3 linked regions of the Homo sapiens genome follow. The protein of the gene in region 2 purifies or fractionates together with the protein of the main gene of each other region. This does not show direct contact. Each region holds a gene or a part of one and is shown on either strand. Other genes may lie near its edges. The genes, in order: NEK2, ANAPC16 and ANAPC13.

Evidence for each region.
Region 1: the proteins of ANAPC16 (region 2) and NEK2 purify together in Homo sapiens (affinity purification with mass spectrometry; 2 studies listed by BioGRID and IntAct, with this or other methods). This does not show direct contact.
Region 3: the proteins of ANAPC16 (region 2) and ANAPC13 purify together in Homo sapiens (affinity purification with mass spectrometry; 4 studies listed by BioGRID and IntAct, with this or other methods). This does not show direct contact.

What each region holds. Positions count from the first base shown.
Region 1 is NC_000001.11:211,661,808-211,665,819, reverse strand, and holds the end of NEK2 (serine/threonine-protein kinase Nek2), read left to right. Parts: intron 1-2,167; coding exon 2,168-2,394; 3' UTR 2,395-3,048; downstream 3,049-4,012. UniProt on the Homo sapiens protein: Protein kinase which is involved in the control of centrosome separation and bipolar spindle formation in mitotic cells and chromatin condensation in meiotic cells.
Region 2 is NC_000010.11:72,225,714-72,233,375, reverse strand, and holds part of ANAPC16 (anaphase-promoting complex subunit 16), read right to left. Parts: intron 3,011-7,662; coding exon 2,936-3,010; intron 376-2,935; coding exon 260-375; 3' UTR 1-259. UniProt on the Homo sapiens protein: Component of the anaphase promoting complex/cyclosome (APC/C), a cell cycle-regulated E3 ubiquitin ligase that controls progression through mitosis and the G1 phase of the cell cycle.
Region 3 is NC_000003.12:134,482,548-134,490,187, forward strand, and holds the start of ANAPC13 (anaphase-promoting complex subunit 13), read right to left. Parts: upstream 3,439-7,640; 5' UTR 3,405-3,438; exon of another isoform or gene 2,773-3,404; intron 385-2,772; 5' UTR 358-384; coding exon 259-357; intron 1-258. Other genes in the region: CEP63 (centrosomal protein of 63 kDa), read left to right, coding at 4,173-4,180. UniProt on the Homo sapiens protein: Component of the anaphase promoting complex/cyclosome (APC/C), a cell cycle-regulated E3 ubiquitin ligase that controls progression through mitosis and the G1 phase of the cell cycle.

The sequences.
Region 1 (4,012 bases), on a different chromosome or scaffold from region 2:
GATTGATGATCACAATAACTTTGTAGTGAATAAGTGATGGAAAGAAATGAAACTACTGATAGAAGTAAATGAAACAAGGATTATATGAAACTTTGGCTTCATCTCTGTTAAAATACCTTCTTTTTTCCCAATATTGCAGTCTACCATTTCAATATTATAAAAATATTTATTCTGGCTTTTCATAGATTCCACACTGTCATCCATAAAGACAAAATAGACTTAAATCATGATTAGGGTGATAAAATGAGGAGAAAATTTTACCTGGATGAATTTCATGCATCAAACCCATTGCAGAGAATTACTTAAGACCCTGTTGGGGATGGCTGTTCGGTTAAAGAGTTTATTTACATTTGCCCTGATAGTCTTTGAGCAAAAGATGAAAATAGCTAAGTAAGGATGATGTGTTTTACTTTATAGGATACACAGATAAGTATGGGAATCTACTTATATGTGAATCATGGCAAATATTTAAAATGAGCCATAGGAATCAAGTATCCACTGGGGCAAGCAGACATTTTAGGGTATTGAGTGCTGAAAGTAGTGAACACATCAGAGCTATAAGATAAGCATCATAGCAGTGGGGAGCGGGTACCATTCTGAACTCAGGACAGTTGGAAATATTCTCTCCCCATCCTTGGGCTATAAAATCCACACGTGAGGAAGCCATCACAAGTATATTGAAATCATCACAGCAAGCAGCAGTGTCTTTTTTAAAAGCTGTTCTTTTCGTATTTGATGAAATATTCATTCTTCTATTTAATGGAAGAATTTTAAAAATGTTTTTAAAACACTTTCTTTCTTATAAAACTGTCCCATTAAGAGCCAAGTGTGGTGACGCACCTATAGTCCCAGCTACTCTGGGGCTCAGGCAGGAAGATCACTTAAGCCGAGGCGTCCAAGGCTGTAGTGCACTACAGCTGCACCTGTGACTAGCCACTGCACTCCAGCCTGGAAAACATGGCAAGACCCCATCTCAGACAAAAACAAAAACAAAATAAAACTATCCCATTAGTAAGACAATGTTGACTTACAAATGTAAAGGTATTTGTGGTAATAAGAAGGTGGATAGAGTTGAAACAGTGGAGATAAGGTCTAAAAGCAATCCAGTTTGCTTTGAAGCAGAAGCGACGTATGAAGCGGGAAGTCACAGGACCCTTGGAAGGCAGTGCATCTGTGTGCCAGCCTTTCCTATTTCTTCTGCCTGGAGCACTCTTCATCCAGACAGCCCTGTGGCTTCTTACTTCAGAAATGCTGTATGAGGCTTTGTATCATTACACCCAGCACCCAGCACCCAGCATGTCCCTGTTTCCAGAGCTATTTTTCCTAATAGCACGTATTACCATCAAATATTCCCCACCAGTACTTGTTTGTTTGTGTTTGGTTTATCTCCTCCTACTAGAATAGGGCCTTTGTTTGGTTCACAGTGGCCCATCCTATGAGCTCAGTAAATATTCGAACATATTTCCTTTAACACAAAAAATAAAAGGATTCTAGAATCTGTAAGCCTCCAGCCCCCAGTAATTCTGTCAGCAGTTAATAGTGTTGCCACTTTAAGTAAATATGATTATTATTTATTTTTTCCATGTAAAGAATAGTTTACAGTTTTTACTACTCTTACTTGATTTACCTTTTCCACACTGAATTTGTTTAGATTTTTTGGAAACAGATTTCTCGTCCATTAAGATGCTTTGAACTAAGTGTTCTTGAACATTTAACCAAAACTGTAGGTGTTCTCTATTTAAAAAAAAAAAAAAAAACAAAGACAGAAAAAAACCTCTGCTTCTACACTTTTCTGTAGGTAAGGTGTTCTGCATAGAATGGCACTTATTTTCAAGGACAGAGATAAATAACATTGATTTCCAAAAGTTTTATGTTGTCCATAATACTCAGTGTGTTTAAGAGTAAAATTGATTGTTGGTTGTTAAGAGAATAAAACTTATGTTCCTTGAATTTTGGCACATTCCAATATTATTTTTTCAATGCTGTGGATTAAAAGGCTGATTTCTGCAAGTCCTACACCCCTAACCTCCTATCCCAGAGAAAATAAAACAGGCACCTAGATTTCAAATGTGAGCCATAAGAGCAAATACTTTTTGATAAGTATAAGTATGAAGGAGTTGAACTCTGTTCAAGTAACTCAGAGCCCTTTTTCTTTTTCCTTCTAAAGAACTTCTTAATCTTCCATCCTCAGTAATTAAGAAGAAAGTTCATTTCAGTGGGGAAAGTAAAGAGAACATCATGAGGAGTGAGAATTCTGAGAGTCAGCTCACATCTAAGTCCAAGTGCAAGGACCTGAAGAAAAGGCTTCACGCTGCCCAGCTGCGGGCTCAAGCCCTGTCAGATATTGAGAAAAATTACCAACTGAAAAGCAGACAGATCCTGGGCATGCGCTAGCCAGGTAGAGAGACACAGAGCTGTGTACAGGATGTAATATTACCAACCTTTAAAGACTGATATTCAAATGCTGTAGTGTTGAATACTTGGTTCCATGAGCCATGCCTTTCTGTATAGTACACATGATATTTCGGAATTGGTTTTACTGTTCTTCAGCAACTATTGTACAAAATGTTCACATTTAATTTTTCTTTCTTCTTTTAAGAACATATTATAAAAAGAATACTTTCTTGGTTGGGCTTTTAATCCTGTGTGTGATTACTAGTAGGAACATGAGATGTGACATTCTAAATCTTGGGAGAAAAAATAATGTTAGGAAAAAAATATTTATGCAGGAAGAGTAGCACTCACTGAATAGTTTTAAATGACTGAGTGGTATGCTTACAATTGTCATGTCTAGATTTAAATTTTAAGTCTGAGATTTTAAATGTTTTTGAGCTTAGAAAACCCAGTTAGATGCAATTTGGTCATTAATACCATGACATCTTGCTTATAAATATTCCATTGCTCTGTAGTTCAAATCTGTTAGCTTTGTGAAAATTCATCACTGTGATGTTTGTATTCTTTTTTTTTTTCTGTTTAACAGAATATGAGCTGTCTGTCATTTACCTACTTCTTTCCCACTAAATAAAAGAATTCTTCAGTTTCCCTGTAGTTATGTGTCTTGCATTTGTTGGTCTCTTAGTTGATGGGAGTTGTGTTTATGATTTGTAGGTCTTCATTGTAGGGTACAGAAGGAAACATGGATCTGATGCTCAAGGGAGTGGCATTCCAGTCCTAAACTGTATGGCGCTTTACCTCCCATCTCATTAATCCATGTATGTAAGCCAGTGGTCCTTAACAGGGTGATTTTGCTCCTCAAGAGACGTTTGGCAATGTCTGGGGGCATTTTTGATTGTCATGATTTGGGGTAGGGTGCTACTGGCTGCTAGTGGGTACAGGCCAGGGACACTGTAAACATTTTACAATGCACAGGACAGCTGCTGACAACAAAATGTCCATGGGTTTGGATCATAATCCTGAATGATACAATCTCAAATGCGAAAATCCTGAAAGACCAAAATCCCTAATGTCTTAAATCCCAAAAGATCAGAATCCCTAATGTGTGAACTTCCAAAATCACAATCCTGAAAGATTAAAATCCCAGATGTTAAAATCCTGAAAGCCGAATTTGAGGTTAGGGATTAGTGCCGTTTCAGCTGTATACAGGATAATTGCATCATGTTAGGCAGAACTATTACCTTGTTATTGTCTTCATTTGGAAATTAAGTATGGTTTAAGAGATGTGGATGGATATCGAGTTGATAAGGGGTGAACTTGTTGATTTATGTGTCAACTTGACTGGATTAAGGAATCCCTAGAAATCTGGTAAAGCATTATTTTAGATGTGTCTGTGAGGGTGTTTCCAGAGGAGGTTAATATGTGAGTCTCAGTAGACTAGGTGGGGAATATCTTTCCTCAATGTTTAGTGTTTTGAAGATCATAAAAGCGACTTTTCAGGTGAAAAGTACAAGAAATCTCTCCTGCCAAATTATTCAGTTATGTACAAATTCTGCTCCTTCATGAATAGTGCCACGCTTGCCTTAAAAAAATGCCCTTTGTCAGAGAATAAAATTCG
Region 2 (7,662 bases):
CCAAACCTCCTGGTTCTCTGAAACTGATTGTCTTAATCTGATTCCCAATACTTTTAAAAACAAATAAACAAAACATTCCCTGAAAGATCACACATATAAGTATTTGTTGCCTGTGAATAGATACAGAGAAACCAAGTACAAATGTGCATTAACAATTCAGTGACGTAGCTGTGGATCTCTGGATGGCTATGTAAGCTGTGAGAAAGTCCCCCACTGGCTTTGCACTTGCTGCGCACCAGAGGTGACCATCCAGGCAGTATCAACCTGAAGAGGGGGTGAATCCCAGCAGCTGCTCGATGGGCTTAAACCGCCACTCGTCAGCCTCCAGCTCTTCTACCAAACCAGCTAGTTTTTCCATCCGAGCAACTTGCTGATCTGTAAGGAGTCAAGGAAAGAATATTATGCAACAACGTATTACCCAAGAGACTGCCACCAGCCACCAAGATGATGACTGGTATAAAAATAATTTCTAGGCCGGGTGTGGTGGATCACGCCTATAATCCCAGCACTTTGGGAGGCCGAGGCGGGCGGATCACGAGGTCAAGAGATCGAGACCATCCTGGCCAATATGGTGAAACCCCATCTCTATAAAAATACAAAAAAAATTAGCTGGACGTGGTGGCATGCGCCTGTAGTCCCAGCTACTCGGGAGGCTGAGGCAGGAGAATCGCTTGAACCCTGGAGGCAGAGGTTGCAGTGAGCCGAGATCGTGCCACTGCATTCCAGCCTGGTGACAGAGTGAGAATCCGTCTCAAAAAAAAAAAATTTCTAGATGGATTTTTTTTTCTCCTCAAGATTCTCTCTCTTTTTTTGGGGGGTGGGGTGGGGGTGGGGAATGGAGTCTTGCTTTGTTGCCCAGGCTGCAGTGCAATGGCGCGATCTCGGCTCACTGAAACCTCTGCCTCGTGGGTTCAAGTGATTCTCCCGCCTCAGCCTCCTGAGTAGCTGGGACTACAGGCACCCGCCATCGTGCCCAGCTAAGTTTTTTATTTTTGTAGAGATGGGGTTTCACCATGTTGGCCAGGCTAGTCTCGAACTCCTGACCTCAGGTGATCTGCCTGCCTCAGCCTCCCAAAGTGCTGGGATTACAGACGTGAGCCACTGTGCCCGACCCTCAAAATTCTCATAATGGGGTCTTATTCTATGCTGGTCAGAAGCTTAATTTTTTTTTTTTTTTTTTTTTTTTTTTGAGACAGAGTTTCACCCTTATTGCCCAGGCTGGAGTGCAATGGTGTGATCTCAGCTCACTGCAACCTCTGTCTCCTGGGTCCAAGCGATTCTGCTGCCTCAGCCTCCCGAGTAGCTGGAATTACAGGCATATGCCACCATGCCTGGCTAATTTTGTATTTTTAGTAGAGATGGGGTTTCTCCATGTTGGTCAGGCCAGTCTCGAACTCCCGACCTCAGGTGATCCGCCCGTGTCAGCCTCCCAAATTGTTGGGATTATAGGCATGAGCCACCGTGCCCGGCCTATTTTTTTTTTTTTAAGTTGGAAGTTTCTTCTAATGTTAAAAGAAGAAAGGCTGGGCGCAGTGGCTCATGCCTGTAATCCAAGCACTTTGGGATGCCAAGGCAGGCGGATCACAAGGTCAAGAGATCAAGACCATCCTGGCCAACATGGTGAAACCCCATCTCTACTAAAAATACAAAAATTAGCTGGGCGTGGTGGCGTGCACCTGTAGTCCCAGCTATTTGTGAGGCTGAGGAAGGAGAATCACTTGAACCCAGGAGGCAAAGGTTGCAGTGAGCCGCGATCATGCCATTGCACTCCAGCCCGGGTGACAGTGAGAGACTCCGTCTCAAAAAATAAAAGTCATTTTAAAATAAAATGATCACATTTTCAGGATGTGCCCTATTTTTTTCCAGAGACAGGGTCTCACTCTGTCACCAAGGCTGGAGTATGCCTCCTGGGCTGAAGCGATCGTCCCAACTCAGCCTCCCACGTAGCTGGGACCACAGGCATGCACCACCATTCTCCACTAATTTTTGTATTTTCTTTTTTTAGATATGGGGTTTCACCATGTTGCCCAGGTCAGTCTTGAACTCCTGGGCTCAAGCAGTCTTCCTGCTTCAGCCTCCCAACGTGCTGGGATTAGAGGCATGAGCTACTGCACCCGGCCTGGATGTGCTCTGTTCCTAAAAAAAGTACTCATCCTCTATGCCATAGTGATTTGTGGACTAAAATCCTAGGGTTAGAGGCAATTACAGCTTTTCCCCCTACATAAAGTTTCAATGGAGAAATGGTCTGGAGGGGGAACACAGTTTGTTGATGCAGAAATGAAGGCCTGGTGAGGCCTAATGTAACAGAAAAAGTGTTATCAGGATGTTAGAGTATAGACAGACCAGGAGGTATCGTACAAATACTTGAAGATGATGATGGTAACCAGTGGAGGACAACAGTAAAAGGAGGTTTCAGACAGGAGAGGAAAAAGTAACACAAGAGGAGCAGGAAGCACTGACTCCCTGGAGGACCAACTTTTTTTGTTTTTCAGACAGGGTCTCTGTTGCACAGGCTAGAGTGCAGTGCTGTGATTCCGGCTCATTGCAGCCTCAACCTCCCGGGCTCAAGTGATCTTCCCACCTCAGCCTCCCAAGTAGCTGGGACTACAGGTATGCGCCACCATGCCTGACTAATTTTTTCTTTGTAGAGATGCAGTTTCACCATGTTGGCCAGGCTGGTCTCAAACTCCTGACCTCAAGTGATCCACCCGCCTCAGCCTCCCAAAGTGCTGGGATTACAAACGTGAGCCACTGCACTCGGCCCCAACCTTAAGCCTCAATGTGGACATTATGACTAGATTAAGACCTAGAATGTTCTTTAATTTAGGAAGTCCACTAAAATAGCCTTGCTGAGTTTGGGGATTTTTGTCACAGCCTCATCCACCCCCTAGCAAATTTATTCTCACAGTCAAGTACGCAACACTCATGTGCTTACCATGTTTCACCTGTTTAAGCGTGGATGCCACTTGATAGCTAAAAACAGATTCGCAGAGGAATCTCTCAGAGCCATCTACAAACAAAAGGAGAAAAGGTTTTAATCTGCTCTAAAGGTTTTATGGCTTCTGATAAACCAAGTAAACTTGTCTATTCTTTTCCCTGCTTGTACATTCAGGGTCTAGTTCTCAGTGTTTACAAAGACGGGTTCTGCTTCATTTAGAACTAAGACTGTTATAAAAGCTATTTATTCTATACCTAGAATATTAAAATAGTCCCTCTACTTAAGAGTTTAAAAATAGTGTTTAAAAAAACAAAAACAAGAAACCTCCGTCTGATGTCCTGGTCAACACTTCCCTCCTCCCAACCTGAGAGTTCCTTAATGTTCTCCTGTATGTCAAGCAAACACTGGCAGCTGACACATTTGGCCTTGTGGCTGGCTCCTGTAGTGTCAAAATATAAAGGTTCACCAAAACTCCAAATCATTTTCAGTCTAAAAAACAAAGCTGAGGAAAAAATTGTTGATTTTTAATATATCAAATTACATCACTCTGACAATCACAGAACACTGCTGGGAAATTTCATTCTGTGAACGCAAACTGTAACCTTGATTTTCCAACTGAACCAAAACACTGCAATTTGGATGACGATAAGAGTATGGTGCAAGTTCAGAACCTAGAATTGTACTGGTGCCAAGAACTGCCAACAAGAAGTGGCCAACTCAGTTGCCACAGCACTTGGAAGATGATCATGAAACATAAGCTAGTTCATGTTATTCCTTGTCAGGCAAGGGCTGATACAGCAAAACATATTCTCAAAAATTTACAGCTCACGTAGAAACATTTGATTTTTAAAAAGGTAGCAGAAACCATTTGGGGGATGTACCTTATTGCGAAAATCCTAAAACAAACGGGGAGAGAGGACACAGCTGTCCTTTTTCAGGCAGTACTTCACGTTAGCACTACTAGGCCTCAAGCATTCACCCATCAATCATGGGTTGTTGTGTTGGCCAGGTATTACATGGCAAGCAGACAGGACTAACACATTCTGGCCTCATGCTGAGTTTCACACAAAGGAAACCTTATTTCAGAAGTCACAATAACCAATTAAAAAAAAAAACAACTATAGATACTGTATCCAAAGAGCTTGAATATATAACCAAGAGGGCATCCTTCCAATATCATCTTCAAAGTGATCAAAAAAAAAAAAAAAAGAGAAAAAGAAAAAAATGAAAGTATAATTATTGGGATGTATACTTTTTGTATTCTTCAGAGACAGTGTTACATTCTGTAAATTCAAACTCAGTCTCAAAAAAAAAAGGGGTTTGAATGTCAGCAGTCATTATCCTATTCATATTCTTGCTTAAAAAGTCCAATTATAACTCATATTTTATTTTAGAAAGAGGAAAGCATAGACAATTAGAGTTTACCTCCCAGATGGTTTGATCCTGAACTTTAGGATTACACACAAGGCAGTGGGAATTATAGGCTATAAGGATCAGGCCAAGATGTATATGGAAGCTCCTGAAAGTGCCACCTCTCACTTGCATTTAATCACAGGCACCATTAGGATAAAATAGTTAAGTTGTGATATTTGCATATTTTCCTTGGTAATGAACTTCAAAGCAAAAGGATATAAGCTAAACTTTCAAAAAGGAACCTCTGCATTTCACTCCACCACACTATATGCCTGTGGAACACACTTTTGCTGATTTGCAGCTCCCTATTAACGTCCAAGTCCAATTGCTTCTTAGCCACATCCTATTAGATGTGGTATCAGTACCAGTCTAAAGCCTGGAATTGCTCCAGAACGGAGTCAGCTGGGGGCAATCTCTTCCATTTAGAAACTGTAATCAAACCCTTTGTAACACAGCAGGTAGCAATACATCAGCTTTCCTTGTCAGGGACAAGCACAGGTCATAAACAGGGAAAAGTTTAGTAAATTACCCAAATCTAACACCATAGCCAACTCCAATAAATAAGGATGGTAACAAATACATTAAAAAGAATATTACCTCACAGTAGGCAATTAGACAATGCCAGATAATTTATACTTCAGTGGCTACAATGTCTCTAAAATACAGCCACTGATGGGCTGGAAGGCAGTTTCTAATGTGCTCAGTAATAACTGGGTGAGGACAATTTTGGCCAAGGGCAGGAGAATGCTGCAAACTGCTGTATGCTGCTTATGTGAGGTGTCTGTTATCAGAGAGCAGAGGCACAAAAAAGTTAATTCACAAGGTTAACTACAGGTGATTTGGGTTTACTATCCTAGACTCACAAGGATGTAACATCAAGTTGAACCTTTTGAGATTAAAAACAGCATCCATCCTTGATTCCTAACTGCTTTTGTTCCTTACTCTTGACAGGCAACCCTTCCTGCTCTATTTTCATATCCTTTTTTTTTTTTTTTAAACCAAGTCTCGCTCTGTCGCCCAGGCTGGGGGGCAGTGGCATGATCTCGGCTCACTGCAACCTCCGCCTCCTGGGTTCAAGCAATTCTCTCAGCCTCCTGAGTAGCTGGGACTATAGGCACACACCACGATGCCTTTTTTTTTTTTTTTTTGTATTTTTAGTAGAGGTGGGGTTTCACCATATTGGTCAGGCTGGTCTCGAACTCCTGACCTCAGGTGATCCGCCCACCTCGGCCTCCCAAAGTGCTGGGATTACAGGCGTGAGGCACCGTGCCCGGCCTCTATTTTCATATTCTATTAAACTATTATTGGTCAGGTACATGTGTGTTAGATTTATTGTATAATAGAATAGTATCACCTATAAACATGGTAGAAAATGCTTCCAAATCCAACATCCTTACATTTCAGAGTACTCTTCTCAATTTAATATTCTTGATTTGACCAAGAATATTAAATGGGTTTAGGGGTTGCCATCTCTACATTATTTTTCAGTCTTTAAGTGTAATACTCTTTATATTCTTAAGATTTTAGATTTTTAAAGATTATCTTAATCTTTTTAAGATTTAAGATTATTGGTAAAACTTGAAATGTAAGAAACACAATCAAAACTGTGCACTGTGTATTTATACTTAATATAAATGTATCCTACAACAGAAACACAACACATTTCTCCATGAAGCATATTGAGATGGAATAAAAATGGATAGATCTATAACTCGTTAGAACATCAACATTCAGACTAATCTCAGAAGCCTTTCTTCTTCAATATCTCCACATAATTTGATGTATACTGACAAAGAATGCTGATAGCTTTGAGACTGTGGAGGTACCTCCTGTATTAAATTCCTCTTATAGCTAGAATTTAAATGACTTTAATCTTAGAGCTCCATTGTTGAATATGGATTCTTCTGCTGCTATAAAACTCATTAAGCAATTTAAGTGTCTCCCATTTTTGATTTGTTTTGTGGGAAACTTCCTTAATACTAGGTCTTTGCTGCATATAAATGAAGTCATAATATAGTTTTAGCACCAAATATGGTAACAGGGCCCCAATTGTTCACTACTTCTAACCAGACTCAGTGATACTAACTTGAGTATTTAGTTAACACAATTAAAGAAAATAAAAAGGCAAAGAGAGAAGTACATGTATCACTAATTACATATGCTACCTGGTCATCTACCTCACCACTAGTCATAACCCAAACCAATCCTAGGGAGCTCTATGGTCCCAGAGTCCCCCCGTGGTTTCCTGTCACAAATGATTTTGGGCTTAACCCGTAACTCTTTTTATTATTTCTGATTATTCATCACCCCCAAGGCCAACTATAGTTTGTATCTTTTCTTTTCTTTTTTTTTTTTTGAGACAAGGTCTCCATCACCCAGGCTCGAATGCAGTGATGCGATCACAGCTCACTGCAGCCTCCACCTCCCAGGCTCAGGTGAACCTCCCACCTCACCTTCCTAAGTAGCTGGGACTACAGCCACGTGCCACCACACCCAGCTAATTTTCTATTTTTTCTAGAGACAGGATTTCGTCATGTTGCCCAGGCTGGTCTCAAACTCCTGGGTTCAAGCAATCTGCCTGCCTCAGCCTCCCAAAGTGCTGGGATTACAGGTGTGAGTCACTATGCCTGGCCTATAGTTTGTATCTTTCTCACAGATATTCCTAGATTAGTTTTAAAATATAGTTGTGTAAATTTGAAATATTAAGGCCAGGTGCGGTGGTTCATGCCTGTAATCATAGCACTTTGGGAGGCTGAGGTGGGCAGATCATTTGAGGTCAGGAGTTCAAGCTCAGCCTGGGCAACATGGCGAAACCCTGCCTCTATTAAAAATATTAAAAAAATTAGCCAGGTGTGGTGGTGGGCACCTGTAATCCCAGCTGCTTGGGAGGCTGGGGCAGGAGAATCACTTGAACCCGGGAGGCAGAGGTTGTAGTGAGCCAAGATCGAGCCACTGCACTACAGCCTGGGCAACAGAGCGAGACTCTGTCTCAAAAAAAAAAAAAAATTGCAACACTTAAAGGAAAAAAGATCAATATATAATTAAGCACTAAAATACTAGAATCAAGTAAATTTTGAATCCTTAATAGGTTATTCCCCAAAGCTTTTTTTTTGCTTTTTTTTTTTGAGACAGAGTCTTGCTCTGTCACCAGCCTGGAGTACAGTGGCATGATATCTGCTCACCGCAACCTCTGCCTCCCAGATTCAAGTGATTCTCCTGCCTCAGCCTCCTGAGTAGCTGGACTACAGGCATGCGCCACCACATCCAGCTAATTTTTTTGTATTTTTAGTAGAGACGGGGTTTCACCATGT
Region 3 (7,640 bases), on a different chromosome or scaffold from region 2:
GGACAGAACATGGCTCAGAAAATCGGGGCTCTAGTCCTGGCATGACTCCTAACTGACCTGGCCATGTTAGCTCCCTGAACCACATTTTTCTTCAAATAAAACATACAACTGGATGCTCTCCAGAAGCTTCTAGAGTTAGAGAATTCCACAGCTTTGATTTCTTTGCCACACTAGTTTATCTTCCATTGATATCCCTCCTCCACTAGTTACTGCCAGATCAATACCTTTAACCCATCCTCAGCTCAAATCATAACCTACCAGTGGTATTGCGACATCCTCATAAGGCAGCTTGTCTTCTCGCCAAGCATCATCAATCAAATCCAAGATCCTTCCATCTCTCTGAACCTCACTGTCCATTTTCCTGCAGCTTTGATCTTGTCAAATCTGTAAGCCAAAGAGGTTATTTCTTAAACACGAAGACTGAAGAGATGGTATAATCCACTATTAGGATTCTCCAGGCTTTTTAGTCTGGGGCCACCTTTTGGGAAAAGGTTCATTTTCTCATATGGGCCGGGTGACTACTTTGATCACAGTTCCTCTCTCCAACCCCAACTGATACATATTTTATAGTGTATACTGGACAGGCATAGCCCAGCTGACAGACCAGTGTCATAGAGTGTGACAGGAGAGCAACACGTTAAACGAGGCCCTCAAATATTAATATGTTGCATCTCAATGTAGCTCTTCTCTTCTAACTTGAACATTCACCTTTTCCTGTTTGTGATGCCTTTGATGAGTCCCTGATTCATAATGGCCAGCTAAGTTTCCTTTCTAGCCCCTGGCTCAAACCTCAGCATTCTTAGGCACAGGAGTCACACGAACATACTGTAAAGGAAACGGCTTCCTTCCCTAAAATAGTACCCAGGCTGAGATCTGAATAAAGCACTTCTAGGTGAACACCAGTGGTAGAACCTCATACTGCTAAAGTTTCTCCAGTTTCTGCTTCCCTTTGGGGTAGCTCCTTCCTCGGAGGTTCCTTCCTCTAATTCTTAACGCTACACTCCCTTCAATTTCTGGCCCAAATGGTCACGATGCTTATTTAGCTCCTTGACCATGGCTGATTCCCCATTTTTCTCTGAAACTGCTATAATCTAATCCAAAAGGCTGGCTAGCTTGTAGGATACTTCTGGATTTCCCTGTTTCCAAGGTTGGGCCCTGACTCATCATAGGCATCATCCTATGGGTGCTCCCTGCTACCAAGTGACAATCCAAAAAGCCCGGAAGCCACTGGCATCAAAGGTACTCTCAGTTTCTGAGACTATGGAGACTCACACAATAAGCAATTTTGGGGTGGTGGAGCGGGGTGGAACCCACCATCTGGAGGTGCTTTTTTCAGAGCTCAGCCTGGGTGATATTTTAAGGAAGGAAGCCATTTCCTTTACAAGCTCAACTTCAGACATCGTCTTGCCTTGAGGATTTGTGTCAGGTCTGTAGTTGGTCCCTTCGCATAGTCCAGTTTAGTGTTATCTCAGTATGTTCATGAGCTCCTGTGCCTAAGAACGCTGAGGTTTGGGCCAAGGCAGGTGGAAGTTTTTGTAAAAATGGCTCACAGGGCCGGGCGCGGTGGCTCGCGCCTGTAATCCAGCACTTTGGGAGACCGAGGTGGGCGGATCACGAGGTCAGGAGATCAACACCATCCTGGCTAACAGGGTGAAACCTCGTCTCTACTAAAAATACAAAAAATTAGCCGAGCATGGTGGCAGGCGCCTGTAGTCCCAGCTACTCGGGAGGCTGAGGCAGGAGAATGGCGTGAACCTGGGAGGCGGAGCTTGCAGTGAGCCGAGATAGCGCCACGCGCCACTGCACTCCAGCCTGGGCGACAGAGCAAGATTCCGTCTCGGAAAAAAAAAAACAAAAAAAACCAAAAAGGCTCACAGCTGTCCCCCATAGGATAACTGCAAGATATCCCTAACACCTTGGCAAAAATTATACACAGATTGGTGTGGGAAAGGGTTTACACCCCCATGACAAGGATCTCGGCAAAAGTTAAGCAAAATGCGCCCTGCTACTTCTGTCACCGGTGAGCCAGGTGAGGGCTTAATTAATCCAGTACTCAATAATTAACCGAGTACTACCCAGTGGATAACTCAAAGCAAGACGAAGTTTTGGTTATACTTTTGAAGTCCCTGTCTTACAAGTGCTCCCCACTTTCCTGCTGCTACTCCTTTGTCCTTGCTGCTCTGTCTCCTGGGATACCCTTCTCACTTTCCTCAGCTGATCCAAACCTGACTTTCGGAGGCCCACGTAGATTTTCCACCTTTGTAAAGTTTTCTCAAATCACTCGAGCTTCAGTAGGCCTTCTATCCTTGAACTCTTGCTTCTTGTCCTAACTTAATCTACTAAACAAGCTAGGTCAGCTTTGTGGTCAATTGCTCAGGTATTATTGCCTCCAACTGTTACGTGTACATTTTGTACCCATGATTCCTTAGTAGATCTTTCCACATTTGGTCTCAATCTTTTTCACCTGTCCCTTCTCCAAACACCTCCAACCCTGTCACATTTTCCAGCCTTGACAGTTAAAACCCCCTTTTCCACATCACTAATGCCACTCTTCCTTTCAAGATAAACGCAGGCGTCAGCTCTTGAAGGTCAACATCCCATTTCCGGGATTAGGCGCGAAGGTGCCTTCCCTCATAAGGGGCTGGAAGGATGGGAAGCATCAAGATAATCAATGCCCAGGGCACACTGATTATCTTGTGTATTAAAGCCACCGTCCCAAGTACTCGTCACCCAGTACGACCACTGTTTCCTGAACAAACTTTTCTTACTCACGTGACAGTCCCGATGCCTGCAATGCTCTTTGTTTCTTCCTTTTTATTCCAGTGAACCCACAGTCAGTCTAAAAATCTTAGGTCCCAGGTCGCTTCCTATAGGAGGCCGCCTCCAAACCCCAGGCTGAGTGCGGTCCCGGTACCCACCCCTCCAGGGGTCTCACAGTTCCCTAAGCACAGAGCATGGCACCAACTGGGGAGTCTGTCAAACAGCCCAGATGAATGTCTTTCCAAACACGCGGTGCCTGCGTTTCCAGGGACAGGGACACGTCTTATCAATTTCTATATATTACAGCTTTGTAAACATAATATTTATAAAATCAAAGCGGGAAAGCCTTGTTCCTTGCTAGAAATGAGCCTCGCAGGCCACCACCATCCGCACCGTACGACAGGCCGTCCCTCAGCTGCGGCTTCCTGCCTCAGGCAGGATGTACCAAACGTGGAAGCGGAGACGGGGAGGTCTGGGGGTGCCACGCAAGTCCCTTTCCTCCCGACACGAGTGCAGTAAAGAAAAACGGTTATGAGCGTAAAGTGACAGCCTCGGCCGATGGGAATAGGGGGAAGTCCGACACTGAGCAACGAACGCATTCCCGCGCCTCCAAAACCTAGGCCGGGGGCGCTGGAAACCCTTACCGGCACCCGGCCACCGCGGCAGACGCTTGCTCCTGCCACGCCCCCCCCCCCTCCCCCGCATCACGTGTCTGCACTCGCTTTCCTCGGATTCCCGGATGTGGGTGAGTTCATTTGCTCGCGTGCAGGGGAAGTCTGGAGAAGGCATTGTTTCAATTATTAAAAGTGTGGGGGCAGTGGGCGGAACAAACGCGCCGACTACAGAGGCTGGACGTAAGCTTAGCGGTGGCGCGCGTGCGCAGCGCCGGCCCGAGGTAACGGCGGGAAGGCTCAGGGGCGTGCTTGCGGCAACCCTGTAACCGCCGGTGCGCAAGTTGGAGGGGCAAGGGGCTGCCGTGTCCTGGTCTGGAGGCGGCCCAGGCTGCCTTGGTGATTCTGGCTTCGCGGCCTCATGGCTTGCGGCCGGTTTGCGCAACGGCCTGCGAACCACCAGGCGCGTCCCCGCCGGCTTGGGTCCGCCCCGAAGCCCAGTCCCTCGGCCTGGCCCGCTATGCCCTGCACACTGGCGGAGTCTGGCGTGGCGCAGCCCGGCGTGGGGTTCGGCCCCGCCAGGTGGTCAGCCCTTCCTCGGAGTCCAGGTGGCTGGGGGCGCTTCGGAGAGTGGCCAGGTGGGCGAGCGAGCTGCGCCCAGTACTCACCTTCCCCGGCGGACCCACCTTCCTTTTCAGCGGAGAGACCCCAGTGCGGCCTCCCTGCCAGGGCTGCTGTCTAGCTAGCGCTGTTGGGACTACTTCATTCACGGCACAAGGGGACCCGCTCATTTAGTGTGGCATGTTAAGGTTGGCAGCTTTTAAAATAGTGAGTTGGTTTAAACGGTTATGTTAGTACAAGAGGTACGGAAATGTGGCATAAATCGTGGACTGAAATTGGAGAACCCTGAACTAACGGCTCCATGCACACAAATGAGGGATAGAAAGAAATAAGGACGGTTTCTTAGGAACACTTTAATCATGGAGATACTTGAAGACAGTACATTTAGGCTTATAATGTGGTTTTTCTTACGTCCCTTACGACATCAGGAGAGTAAAGATGAGTATGATGTCAGAGACAGGTCGTCTTTTACAGTTTCAGCACCGTACGCTGATATGCACAGAGTAGTTTTCCCTGAGCCTTATGTCTGGTTAAACTTATTAAAAGAATTTATTATTTTAATAAAGCAGTATTGTAGGGTAGATGCCCTGTATTTATACAGTTCCTCAAGTGCTTGCATTTATTTTTTAGATACGAGGAAATCATAAGGATCGTTGATTAGATTTCTGTTAGCTGTAGCTTAATGATAAAGTGTATATATTTTCTTATTTGGCATGCAGTACCATTTTTAGATTGATTTTTATTTTGAGTTTGCTTTTTGACTGTGGCATTATCAGTGATCAGGGTAGTAAAAAGCTCTGAAACTAAATTAGAGTAGAGATTTATAAACAGGCACACTGCCTTTTAAAATGTATGTAGATGCAAATCTAAAAGTTGTTTGTAAAAATTGTGTATGTTGATTGTACTGATGCCATTTCCTCTCGTTAAAATGGTGGAAGACCTTTGCTTAGTCCTTTCTGTTCTAATTTATGTTGTGCTGGCAGATGGTGACAGCATCAGTAGTCCACTCTGTCATTGCTTCCTGCTTTCAAAAAATGTCAACTTGACTTGAAATTCAGCTAAAGCCAACATTGACAGAAGGTTTCAGGAACTGAATCTCCGATCTTTATGTTATTTTAGTCCGCCTCCCCGCCCCCATCAGGAGCTAGGTTTTTCAGTTTTACAGAGCCACAGTACTGTCATTACACATACACAAATTAATAAAAATTCTCTAATGTCAATATCCAGTCAGATAACGATTTCTTCAACTGTCTCTTAAATGTCTTTTTACAATTAGCTTGTTTGAACCAAAATCCCACAGGGATCTGCCTATTGTGTTTGGGTGATGCACATTTGACATCTTTTAATCTATATTTGTTCCCTCATAGTTATAGCTATGGGATTAGCCCCTATTTTTCCTTACAGTTCTAAATTTAGCAGATTGCATCGCACAGTATCCTTTAACATGTATCTCTGTTGCCTTTGTGTCCTCTAAACCAGGGGCCCCCAAACCCGGGGCCGCAGAGCAGTACCAGTCCGTGGCCTGTTAGGAACCAGGCTACAGAGCAGGAGGTGAGTGACAGGCTAGTGAGCATTACCTACCACCTGAGCTCTGCCTCCTGTCAGATCAGCCGTGAGGTTAGATTCTCCTAGGGGCACGAACCCTATTGTAAACTGCGCATGCAAGGAATCTAGGTTGCACACTTATAAGAATCTGACTAATGCCTGATGATCTGAGGTGGAATAGTTTCATCCTGAAACCATGCCCCTAACCCTGTCCATGTGTATTATTCATATTACTGAAGAAGTGGTTGGCCGGGCGCGGTGACTCACGCCTGTAATCCCAGCACTTTGGGAGGCCGAGGTGGGCATGAGGTCAGGAGTTTGAGACCAGTGTGGCCAACATAGTGAAACCCCGTCTCTACTGAAAATGCAATAAAATTAGCCGAGTGTGGTGGTGTGCGCCTGTAATCCCAGCTACTCGGGAGGCTGAGGCAGGAGAATCACGTGAATCCGGGAGGCGGAGGTTGCAGTGAGCCGAGATCACACCATTGCTCTCCAGACCAGGCAAGAGTGCAAGACTCGGTCTCAAAAAACAAAAAAAAGTGGTTTGGCCATTCCTCCCCCAAAACATTTCATATGAATTTTAACAAAAAGATATTTACAAAATGTGTTATTTCCGCCCTGTCGGTGTTGAGAAATTGTCTTCCATGAAACAGGTCCCTGGTGCCAAAAAGGTTGGGGACCACTGCTCTAAACCAGTAGTTAGATGTAGAATTGCACTGTCCGGTATTGTAGCCACCAGCCAGCAGTGGCTAGTTAATTAAAGTGAAATAAAATTAAAAATTCAGTTCCTAGGCTGGGCGCGGTGGCTCACGCCTGTAATCCCAGCACTTTGGGAGGCTGAGGTGGGTGGATCACGAGGTCAGGAGTTCGAGACCAGCCTGACCAACATGGTGAAACCCCGTCTCTACTAAAAATGAAAAATTAGCCGGGCGTGGTGGCATGCGCCTGTAATCTCAGCTACTAAGGAAGCTGAGGCAGGAGAAGGAGAATCGCTTGAACCCGGGAGGTGGAGGTTGCAGTGAGCCGAGATCACGCCACTGCACTCCAGCCTGGGTGACGGAGCGAGACTGTCTCAAAAAAAAAAAAAAAAAAAAAATTCAGTTCCTAACTTGCATTAGCCACATTTCAAGTGCTCGGTAGCTACAGATTGCCTGGTGGCTGCTTTTTGAACAGTGCAGTTATAAAATATTTTCATAATTGCAGAAAGTTGTATTGAACAGCACTGCTCTAGAAGCCTGATGAGATTTCACCCTTATATTTGTTTTTGTTTTGTTTTTTGGTGGGATAGTTGGGGGGGTTGGACAGATAATTTCATAGGTAATGCAGTATACTTCCTATTTCATTAATTATCAGGGAAGCAGTGTCTGAGTTGTTTTCTTTTTTTATGATGTTAACATTAAACATTATATTGGGTTTAGGTGTAGTTAGCTCCATCCACCCATAGTGAAATTCCCCAAGACTCTTTCACTTAGTGGTGAAGTCCTTTTGTGGGGTTATATTGCCTGTATCCGTTATTGCATTAGAGGTTGCAACGTGGTGATTATCTAATTCTATTATTTCTTCAATATTTATCAACTGAGAGTCTTTTATGAAGAACTTTCCCTTTCCAGCTGTTTGACTACCCTGAAATACAATTTGTACAGGAAAGGCAAGAAAAATGCTTAATTCTTTGCCTCTATTTTCAGACCACAGTAATGAGTTGGTGGCCTAGCAGCCTCCAAAGGTAACCATGAGGGTTTTTGCCTTTTTGTAAACCTATAATCATGAACTTATAGACTTTATATTTAAACTGTTTCAACATATGGCAGTTGTGTTTTTAATACTCAAATTGTTTCATCTTTGGCCAGTGGGAGCTCCTTAAAGTTGGCTCCTATTCCATTTGATATGACCAATAGCTTTGGTAATTTCCTTGCTTTCTGGTAAATAATTTTCCTGGCTCATTTATAGATTTCTGGTCTTCAAGGAGCCGTGGTTCTTTTGAGTCTGAGATAGTATTTGGAGACCACAGTCTTACCTAGGTGGGAGAGGTGTTCTTGCTACTAGGTTAGTCGTTAGTTCTAGGATTTATGGTGGCCAGAGTTAGGAAATATTATATATTAAAAA